Linked DNA regions of Homo sapiens: region 1 is linked to region 2. Evidence: fine-mapped expression QTL. A gene starts in region 2. The other region holds a variant in brackets. All regions are shown on one strand. Distances are between the middles of the regions. Region 1 has its middle 12 kb from the start of SLC25A33. Region 2 holds the start of LZIC (leucine zipper and CTNNBIP1 domain containing).

Evidence for each region. PIP is the estimated chance that this variant, and not a neighbour inherited with it, causes the effect. A credible set is the group of variants that fine-mapping cannot tell apart.
Region 1: its variant is the best candidate, but not a certain one, in a credible set for the expression of LZIC in testis (GTEx, PIP 0.56).

The regions. Positions count from the first base shown.
Region 1 is chr1:9,525,128-9,530,499 of GRCh38, forward strand. No RefSeq gene overlaps it. Among named protein-coding and RNA genes, the nearest start is that of SLC25A33, 12 kb to the right of the region's middle. The variant C/T (reference allele first, on the strand shown) is at 2,320.
Region 2 is chr1:9,940,987-9,946,358 of GRCh38, forward strand. LZIC (leucine zipper and CTNNBIP1 domain containing) reads right to left here and starts at 2,405. Exons shown (of 8, transcript NM_032368.5): 1 at 2,263-2,405; 2 at 1,638-1,796. It overlaps NMNAT1 (nicotinamide nucleotide adenylyltransferase 1), which reads left to right and starts at 2,489. Exons shown (of 5, transcript NM_022787.4): 1 at 2,489-2,529. RefSeq lists enhancers at 1,434-2,004, 1,538-2,737, 2,005-2,574.

The DNA of each region.
Region 1 (5,372 bases), 420 kb before region 2:
CCAGCCTGGGCAACAAGAGCAATACTCCATCTCAACAAAACAGAAAAACAGAGATCTATTATGAGGGATTAGCTCACAGGATAGTGGAAGCTGAGAAGTTCCATAATCTGCCATCTGCTACCTAGAGGCCCAGGAAAGCCAGTGGTGCAGTTCCAGTCCAAACCCAAAGGCCTAAGAACCAGGGAAGACAATGGTGTAAGTCCTGGTCCAGTCTGAAGACCCAACAACCAGTAGCTCCAATGTCCAAGGGCAGGAGAAGACAGATGTCTCGGCTCAAGCAGACAGTGAAATCACCTTCCTCTGCCTTTTTGCTCTATTGAGCATTGGCCAATGCCCACCCACATAGGTGAGGGTAGATCTTTTTTACTCGGTCTCCCAATTCAAATGCTGATCTCTTCTGGAAGCATACACATACACACACACACACACACACACACACACACACACACACACACACACACACACACACAATGTTTTACCAGCCATCTGAGTACCCTTAGCCCAGTCAAGTTGACACATGAATTTAACCATCATGGGGGCTGAGCATGGTGGCTCACGCTTGTAATCCCAGCACTTTGGGAGGCTGAGGTGTAGCAGGACAAGCTGCAGACAAAACCCCTCAGACACCAAGTTAAAGAAGGCCGGGAGCTTCGGCAAGACTCATGTCTCCAACAACTGAGCTCCCCGAGTGAGCGATTCCTGTCACTTTTAAGGGCTCACAACTCTAAGGGGGCCCACGTGAGAGGGTCGTGATGGATTGAGCAAGGAGGGGGTATGAGACTGGGGGCTGCATACACCGGTAATTAGAAAGGAACAGAACAGGACAGGGATCTTCACAGTGCTTTTTTTTTTTTTTTGAGACAGAGTCTCAAAGCCTGTTGCCCAGGCTGGAGTGCAATGACACGATCTCGGCTCACCACAACCTCCGCCTCCCAGGTTCAAGAGATTCTCCTGCCTCAGCCTCCCAAGTAGCTGGGATTACAGGCATGTGCCACCAAGCCCTGCTAATTTTTTGTATTTTTAGTAGACAGGGGATTTCTCCATGTTGGTCAGGCTGGTCTCAAACTCCTGATCCACCCGCCTTGGCCTCCCAAAGTGCTGGGATTACAGGCGTGAGCCACCTCGCTCGGGCTTTTTTTTTTTTTATGCAAATAACCGATCAGGTCAAGGGTTGATCTTTAACTACCAGGCCCAGGGTGTGGCGCCGGGCTGTTTGTGGATTTCATTTCTGCCTTTTAGTTTTTACTTCTTCTTTCTTTGGAGGCAGAAATTGGGCATAAGACAATATGAGGGATGGTCTCCCCTCTTAGAGGCAGGCAGATCACTTGAGGTCAGGAGTTCACGACCAGCCTGGCCAACATGGTGAAACCCCATCTCTACTAAAAATACAAAAAAATTAACTGGGTGTGGTGGTGCACACTTGTAATCCCAGCTACTCGGGAGGCTGAGGCAGGAGAATCGCTTGAACCTGGGAGACAGAGGTTGCAGTGAGCCTGGCTGGGCTATAGAGCGAGACTCTGACTCAAAAAAAAGAAAGAAAGGAAGAAAGAAATTAACCACACAGGGACCAAAGGATGAATCAGGGCCTTGTCGGTCACTCAGAATTCCCACCAGCTCCAGAATGCAGACTCTGGAACTGAATCTCTTCTGCAATCCTGTCCACACGGTTGGCTTTGTAAGCCGGATTGTTCTCCCCAAATGTGTGGCTCAGCCACGTCTCAAAGTCATGAGGCTTGAATGAAGATTCAGCATATGAAGGAGGATGTATGGAGACAGTCCCTGGACAGAAGGGTAAAACCAGCTTGTCCAGGTAAAAGTCTGTGTCTACATCACACAACCTGCCTGGCCTGGCACCAACCCTGCCTGCTTCTCCATCCCCCACATCTCTCACCCCTGGCTCCCCAGGCTTCAGCCACACGGGCCTCCTTTCAGTTCCTCACACAATCCAAGCTTGTTCTGTGAAAGGAAACTATCTTGGGCCCCCAAAATCACTAAGCTAAAGGGAAAAGTCAAGCTGGGAACTGTTTAGGGCAAACCTGCCTCCTAGTCTATTCAAAGTCATCCCTGGCCGGGTGCGGTGGCTCACGCCTGTAATCCCAGCACTTTGGGAGGCCGAGGCGGGTGGATCACAAGGTCAGGAGATTGAGACCATCCTGGCTAACATAGTGAAACCCTGTCTCTACTAAAAATACAAAAAATTAGCCGGGCGTGGTGGCCAGCGATTAGATGGTGCCCACCCACGCTAAGGGTGGGTCTTCCTGAGGGTGGGTCTTCCTCTCCCAGTCCACTGACTCAAATGTTAATCTCTTCTGGCAACAC[C/T]CAGACATGTTGTAGGAAAATCCCAACACTTTGGGATGCCAAGGCGGGCGGATCACCTGAGGTCGGGAGTTCAAAACCAGCCTGACCAGCTTGGAGAAACCCCATCTCTACTAAAAATACAAAATTAGCCGGGCATGGTGGCACATGCCTGTAATCCCAGCTACTCAGGAGGCTGAGGCAGGAGAATCGCTTGAACCGGGGAGGCAGAGGTTTCGGTGAGCCGAGATCGAGCCACTGCAGTCCAGCCTGGGCAACAAGAACGAAACTCCATCTCAAAAAAAAAAGAAAAAGAAAAATTCAGGTTCTTGTCACACGACCAGGAAAGATTAGGCTCGCAGACACTTTGAAGGGTGAGAAAAATGAAATTTACTGGGCCAAAAGGACAAAAGGGGAAACAGGAACTGTCAGCAAAGCGAGGGTCCTGCTCGTAGGTTTCCCACCTCACAGATTGAATCCCAGGTTACCACCCAGGAACTGGAGAGTCCAGGCTCCTCCCCACTGCAAACAGCCCAAACTTCCCAAGGCTCCACCCCAGTGCGCACTCCTCCCGGTACTCAGGCCGGTTAAAAGATCTCCAGGGAGCCCTTCTTCCTTGGCTGTCTCAAATACACCCGGAAACAATACTTTGCATCCTTCAATCCAATCAAGTTGACATTTAATATTAACCATCAGTGGGTTGGGTGTGGTGGCTCATGCCTGTAATCCCAGCACTTTGGGAGGCCGAGGCAGGCGGATCAAGAGGTCAGGAGTTCGAGACCAGCCTGGCCAATATGGTGAAACCCTGTCTGTACTAAAAATATAAAAATTAGCCAGGTGTGGTCGCGTGCACCTGTAGTCCCAGTCACACTCCTGAAAGTGGCAGAGCATGCCTTGAAGTGCTCAGTGTTCATGAGCTCTGATGGTGAGCATCTCACAGGCCCTCATGAAACCATGCCTGGTAATGAGAACCCAGTGCATCTCCTTCCACATCTGGCTTTCCTTCCTTTCCCCTCACTGGCAACAGATTCACAAATCAGCACGAAGAGAGCTGCACGCGGCAGCTCATGCCTGTAATCCCAGTACTTTGGGAGGCCAAGGACCAGCCTGGCCAACATGGCAAAACTCCGTCTCTACTAAAAATACAAAAATTAGTCAGGCATGGTGGCAGGCGCCTGTAATCCCAGCTACTTGGGAGGCTGAGGCAGGATAATCTCTTGAACCTGGAAGGCGGAGGTTTCAATGAGCCAAGATCGTGCCACTGCACTCCAGCCTGGGCGACAGAGTGAGACTCTGTCTAAAAACTAAAAATTAAAAAAAAAAAAATCAGCACAAAGAGGTTGGTCAAGGGGAAAGATGGCTTACAGGTCGGCTTAACTGATGTCAGAGGAAGAAAGGCTGGGAATGCTCCCTGCCTGGAGTCTCTAATCCATCCTGGCAGTGGGTGGAGCACAGACTCTGGAGCTGAAATGCACTGGTTCAAATCCTCTGTGCCTCAGTCATCTTATTTGTAAAATGGGGACAGTAATAAAATAGTCCCCACTTGACAATGTTGAGGAACAATTGAGTCAATATGACTAAAGCGCAGAGCCGGCACTCTCTGGATGTTCGCTAGGGTCTGGGTCCCTTCTGCAGGCCTGCCCCTCTGTTTTGCTGGGCCTAGAGCGGCAGCACCCCAGCTCTGCCCTACTTAGACTGTGGTGATGCCAGGTCTGCCACCGGAGCCAGCTCCCCTGGGAGGGCAGTGAACAAAGAATAATTTCTAGGCAGTAATGAAATCTTCAAAGCCCCGAGGCTTGCTGGCCCTCTAGAGAGTGTCCTGATTCTGCCTCCTGGGCAATTGGTCTCAGGAAAAAAAAAAAAAACCCCATTGAAAAATGAAAGTGACTTCTCAGAGCCTGAAGCTGCTCTGTCTCTCAGCAGTTCCCTGACGCATGCAGAAGTCACTGCTGGTGACATCAGCTGGAGCCTACGCCTACCTGCATTATCTGCACTGAGCCTCTGGGACTCCCAGCTTTGTTCTTATGTCTTATGTGTTTTGTCTACCAATTACCCTGTTGGCCAGGCATGGTGGCTCACGTCTGTAATCCCAACACTTTGGGGGCCGAGGTGGGAGGATTGCTTGAGCCCAGGAGTTCGAGACCAGCCTGGGCAATAGGTCGGCCGTGTGCTTTCTCTTGCTCCGCCCCCACTCATTCATTGCTTGGAAGCTGCTGTGGGTCCAGATGCTGTGGTTTCTCCCTAGGGGATGGCCACATCCATGGTGATGCCCCTGGCGCAGCACCCCTTGGTATTCAGAGCAGCTGGCGCTGGGTATCAGGCTGAGGAGAGCAACACTCTGGAGACAAGAACATAGAACCCACTTTGTATGCTGAGGATCCTCCAAGTCTCTCACCCAGCAGCTTTTCCAACTGGTAGCTGCCCGCCCACAATCAATGTGGCTTAAACTCACATATATATATATAATTGAGATGGCATCTCACTGCGTTGCCCAGGGTGCAGTGCAATGGTGCGATCTCAGCTCAATGCAACCTCTGCCTCCTGGGTTCAAGCGATTCTCTCCTGCCTCAGCCTCCCAAGTAGCTGGGATTACAGGCATCTGCTTCCATGCCCGGCTAATTTTTGTAATTTTAGTAGAGACGGGGTTTCGCAATGTTGGCCAGACAGGTCTTGAACCCCTGACCTCAAATGATCCACACGCCTCGGCCTCCCAAAGTGCTGGGATTGCAGGGATGATCCACGGCGCTTAGCTGGCTGAAACTCATATTGAGGGCTGGGGACCGAAAACATGACAATGATGGGGCTTCTCCTTACTGGGCACTTTCTCTGGCTGAGGCACAGTTAACGTCTGTAATCCTACCACAGCCCTGTGAGCCAGGTCCTGTTGAGGCAGTTCCATCTGCCCTCAACAGTTTGGGAAACAGATTCTCAGAGAGGCTATGTGAGGTGCCCAGGGTGCTGGGATTTGAACCCACTTGGCCTGACCTAAGGGAGAGTGTGCTGACCTCTGCCCCAGCTCTGAGTTAGGCACTCCCATTCTGCAGGCAGGGGTAGCTGGGTTCACATCATAACTCCAC
Region 2 (5,372 bases):
CACACTGGATGACTTGCTGTTCCAAAAATGTCATGCACTTTTTTGAGCCTGCATTTTTTTTTCTACCTATGAAGCCCAGTTCATTCTTCAAAGTCTAGTTCAAGTGTCACCTTCTCTACAAGGTCTTCCTTGATTTCCTCCCAATCACTAGGTTGTGAATTATTTAAGTAGGGATTTTACCTTTTCTTTCTTTCGTTCGTTCGTTCTTTCTTTCCTCTTTCTTTTTTTTTTGATGGCGTCTCACGGTCACCCAGGTGGAGTGCAGTGGCATGATCTTGGTTCACTGCAACCTCTGCCTCCTGGGTTCAAGTGACTCTCCTGCCTCGGTCTCCCGAGTAGCTGGGAATGTAGGTGCCCGCCACCACGCTCAGCTGATTTTTGTACTTTTAGTAGAGATGAGGTTTCACCATGTTGGCCAGGCTGGTCTCAAACTCCTGACCTCAGGTGATCCGCCTGCCTCAGCCTCCCAAAATGCTGGGATTACAGGTGTAAGCTATCGTGCCTAGCCTTTACCTTTTTTTTTTTTTTTTTTGAGATGGAGTCTCACTCTGTCGCCAGGCTGGAGTGCAGTGGCACGATCTCGGCTCACTGCAACCTCCGCTTCCCAGGTTGAAGAGATTCTCCTGCCTCGGCCTCCCAAGTAGCTGGGATTACAGGCACGCACTACCACGCCCAGCTAATTTTTGTATTTTTAGGAGAGACGGGTTTCACCATATTGGCCAGGATGGTCTCGATCTCTTGCCCTCGTGATCTGCCTGCCTCGGCCTCCCAAAGTGCTGGGATTACAGGCGTGAGCCACCGCACCCGGCCTTTACCTTTTCTTTATACACCAGCATCCAGCACAATCTTGGACAGACAAAAAGTGCCGAATAAACAACTGGTAGATGAATAATGAGAATTGATTGCTTCTTCTTTAGCATTCAAATCTTTTTTTTTAAAATTTTTTTTGAGACGGAGTCTCGCTCTGTCGTCCAGGATGGAGTGCAGTGGCGCGATCTCGGCTCACTGCAACCTCAGCCTCCTGGGTTCAAGCAATTCTCCTGCCTCAGCCTCTCCAGTAGCTGGGACTACAGGCATGCGTCACCACATCTGGCTAATTTTTGTATTTTTAGTAGAGATGGGGTTTCACCATGTTGTCCAGGCGAGTCTTGAACTCCTGACCTCTGGTGATCCACTTGCCTCAGTCTCCCAAAGTGATGGGATTACAGGCGTGAGTCACCGCGCCCAGCTCAAATCTTATTCTCTATTTAGCACTTATTTCTGCCTTTAATTATATATGATTTTATTATAATACGTTATCTCCTCTGACTAAACTCTGGAGAACAGAATATGAGTCTGATTCCTCTCTCAGCTTTCTCAGTACCTAATACAGAATAGAACGTCGATAATTTGGTCACGTATATAAAGGCTCAACATATTTTAAGGAGCTAAAGCTATTCTGAATACATTTCAGTAAAAATGGGTGCATTTTAAAAGCCTTAACCTGGTACTACATTAGTTGAGATTTATCCCCGAAAGATTAACTCGTTGGCACCACCTAGTAGTCACTAAATGTGGTGCACTTTTCACTTTTACGAAACTACAGAAACCGCTCTCAGACACTATATCTGGAGCGGAGGGTCCTCATTCATGCTCACCTGTCTCTTAGTACTCTGATCTCTGCACAGTGCCGACCGGTCTCAAATTGCACAAACCTCCAGTTCTTGACGTTCCGAGTGTCATAAACTTGAGGAAAATGAAATTATTCATCAGGACTACAAAAGGCTCAAAGTTCAAACCACCTCGGGGTGGAGATGCTGGAAAAAAGGAAACCATTAACAAGTAATTTTATTTGCTATATATAAACTTGCCCTAAGGCAGTCCAGATAACTTCCACTTGAGCAGCCTGAGACATCAAGGGCGGGGGCACTTTCCCCCTCGACTGCGCCTACCGCAGCCTTTCTGAGTTTCTTCCTAGCGAGGCCGAGAGGGTCTTTGAGGAAAATCCCGCATCCGGACACGCCTTGAGGGATGGCGTCAAACCCAGAGGCTTGGAAAAGGTAAGGGCGGAGAGCACGCCTCTTCCTTGAAAGTGAGGAGGGTTTGGCCCAGAACCAACAGGACTGGGTGAAGAATCAGCTCCGGCCACCGCAGCAAATCCCACCCCACGCGGGAACTTGAAGTCCGGCACGTAGGTCCCGCGGCGGCCGGGCTCCAACAGGCCCCAATTGCCACCAGAGGTAGCCGTAAACCCATGGTCCCCGAAACTCCTTCCGGGCCTACCTGACAAAAACTGGGACAACCTCCTTAGGCCCCCGGGATTCCCCCTGTGCCGCCTGACCGCCCGCCAGTCCCAGAGTTTAGGGCCAGGGGCCCCGCCTACCTGAGGGCACTGGCCTGGCGGACCGCGCCGGGGGAGCACTTCCGCTGGACGCACGCACTTCCGGCCCCCTGGAACCAATGAGAGTGCGACCGAGATGTTCCACTCGCTGGCGTCCGGGCCGCTGGTGATCTCCGGTAGCACTCGGGCCGGCGGACAGTGAGGGCGCGGTAAGCTCCCCGCAAGGAGCCCCTGAGAAACTGGTCGCTTTTTGTCCTAGATATAGGGGAGTCCAGGATGGTGTGGTGGAGTCTTTAGAGTCGAATATGACCCGAGGCAAGCTCATATTCAGGTTTGGGGCAAGGAGCTTTGATTGACCCTTAATTTTTTCAGTGGAACGGAAAACTTCGGTAAAATAGCTTCTGACCTTCGGAACAGATGGATTCACCTTGGAAAGGAAAAATCTCTTTCTAGAAGAGTCTTGAGGTCTGGCACCTTTAGGCTTAACGGGGGACGGCTGGGCGTCAGAGGAGGAAATCCTTCATTCCGAACGACTTCCCTTTCCTCCTAAATCCTTCTTTCCAAATCTGTAAAAGACTACATCTACTTTGCTGGAGGTGGTTTGACACTCATGCTCCTTGAGAAGGAGGTAATGAGCTGTAGGGCAGCTCTTAAAAAGTTACCCTTGGACGGGCGCGGTGGCTCACGCCTGTAATCCCAGCACTTTGGGAGGCCGAGGCAGGCGGATCACGAGGTCAGGAGTTCGAGACCAGCCTGGCCAACATAGTGAAACCCCGTCTCTACTAAAAATACAAAAAATTAGCTGGGCGTGGTGGTGGGCGCCTGTAATCTCAGCTACTCGGGAGGCTGAGGCAGGAGAATCGCTTGAATCCTGGAGGCGGAGGTTACAGTGAGCCGAGATCGCGCCATTGCACTCCAGCCGGGGCGACAGTTCGAGACTCCATCTCAAAAATAAAAATAAAAAAAAGTTACCCTTGGCTGTCGCGGTGTGACACCTGTAAACCCAGCACTTTGAGAGCCCGCGGTGGGAGGATCATTTGAGCCCAGGCTGGGCAACATAGCAAGACCCTCATAACAAAAAATTAAAAATAAAATTACCCAGAAACTGGTTGGAACTATTTAATGATGTTCTTAGTCCATCTTCCTGAAGTAGTCCACAGAACAACATCAGTGTTCATGGTAGAATTGTTTCATCAGGGCAGTTTTTTTTTAAGTAACAATGTCTTGTTAAAAAACAAGAGCTGTGTTGCCCAGGCTGGAGTGCAGTGGTGTGATCATAGCTCACTGCAGCCTTGAACTCCTGGGCTCAAGCGATCCTCTGGCCTTGGCCCCTCAAAGTGTTGTGGTGATTGGCACAAGCCACCGACAGGCCTGGAGTCTGAAGTTAGTTATATTTCAGCTACCCAGGATAAACTTCTAACTATGATTACCACAGAACTCTACCAAAACTAATTGTTTCACTTAGTTCTGTCTGATTATGGAATCTCTTTATTACCATCAGTTGTTTTTCAGAGTTACAATTTGAATATGAAACCATTTTTCTAGCCCACCTTAGAGAAGACTGTTGACACACTAGTTGAAATGGTTGCAATAGCCTCTACCTTGCAAGACACTTCAGATTCAAAGAATTTCCTTTGCAAAAGTCGGCCGGGTGCAGTGGCTCATGCCTGTAATCCCAGCACTTTGGGAGGCCAAGGCGGGCAGATCACTTAAGGTCAGGAATTCAAAACCAGCCCGGCCAACATGGTGAAACCCCATCTCTACTAAAAATACAAAAATTAACCAGGCGTGGTGGTCCATGCCTGTAATCTTAGCTACTCAGGAGGCTGAGGCATGAGAATCGCTTGAACTCAGGAGGTGAATGCTGCAGTGAGCCAAGATCACGACGCTGCACTGCAGCCTGGGTGACAGAGCAACTCCGTCTTAAAAAAACAAAACAAAACAAAACAAAAGAAGAAAAAAATAAAAGTACCTATTAATGCAATTATCTTTCAATTTTGATTCATAAATATGTGTGGAAGTGTCAATGTTTTGGGTAAAATGGAATTCACAGTGACAGAGTCAGTGCCATACAAAACAAAACTGGAAAATATACTTTAAAAAAATTATTTGAGCTGGGTGTAGTGGCTCACACCTGTAATCCCAGGACTTTGGGAAGCCGAGGTGGGCGGATCACGAGGTCAGGAGTTTGAGACCAGCCTGGCCCCTATGGTGAAACCCTGTCTCTACTAAAAATACAAAAAATTAGCTGTGCATGGTGGCGTATGCCTGTAGTTCCAGCTACTCGGGAGGCTGAGGCAGGAGAATTGCTTGAACCCGGCAGGCGGAGGTTGCAGTGAGCCGAGATCGTGCTCTTCAGCCTGGGCTACAGGGTGAGACTCGGTCTCAAAAAAATAATAATAATAATTTGAAAAATTTGCTGAATAAACATTTGTTCACAGTGTACTTTCCCTGATTTTTTAATTTTTGTTTTTGTTTGCCCTGTCACCCAGACTGGAGTACAGTGACACGAGCACGGCTCACTGCAGCCTTAATCTCTCAGGCTCAAGTGATCCTTGCACCTCAGCCTCCCTAGTAGCTGGGACTTCAGGTGCATGCCACCACATCCGGCTAGTTTTTGTATTTTTTGTAGAGATGAGGTTTTGTCATGTTGCCCAGGCTGGTTTCAAACTCCTGGGCTCAAGTAATCCTCCCACCTTGGCCCCGCAAAGTGCCGGAATTACAGGCATGAGCCACCCCACCCAGCCTTCCCCTAATTTTGATAATGATAATCCAATGTTCTGTTCTGGCATTTGTGTAGTTTTAGCGTGTGCAGTCTTCGAAGCAGTGGAGGTATTTGCCTTTTCTTCTCTGTGACTTAGTCATTCAGCAGTTCTATGCTAAGGGTTTTTTTATATGCCTTTAGGTTCTTGTTTAGAGTTAATGGATAATGAAAACATTTCTAATGCATAAGAGAAATGCATTCTGAAACAAAAATAGAATACAAGCCTTCAGACAGAAGGCAGAGAAGAAACTGGAGAAAGAGAAATAAGATGTTAGGTAGGAAACCATG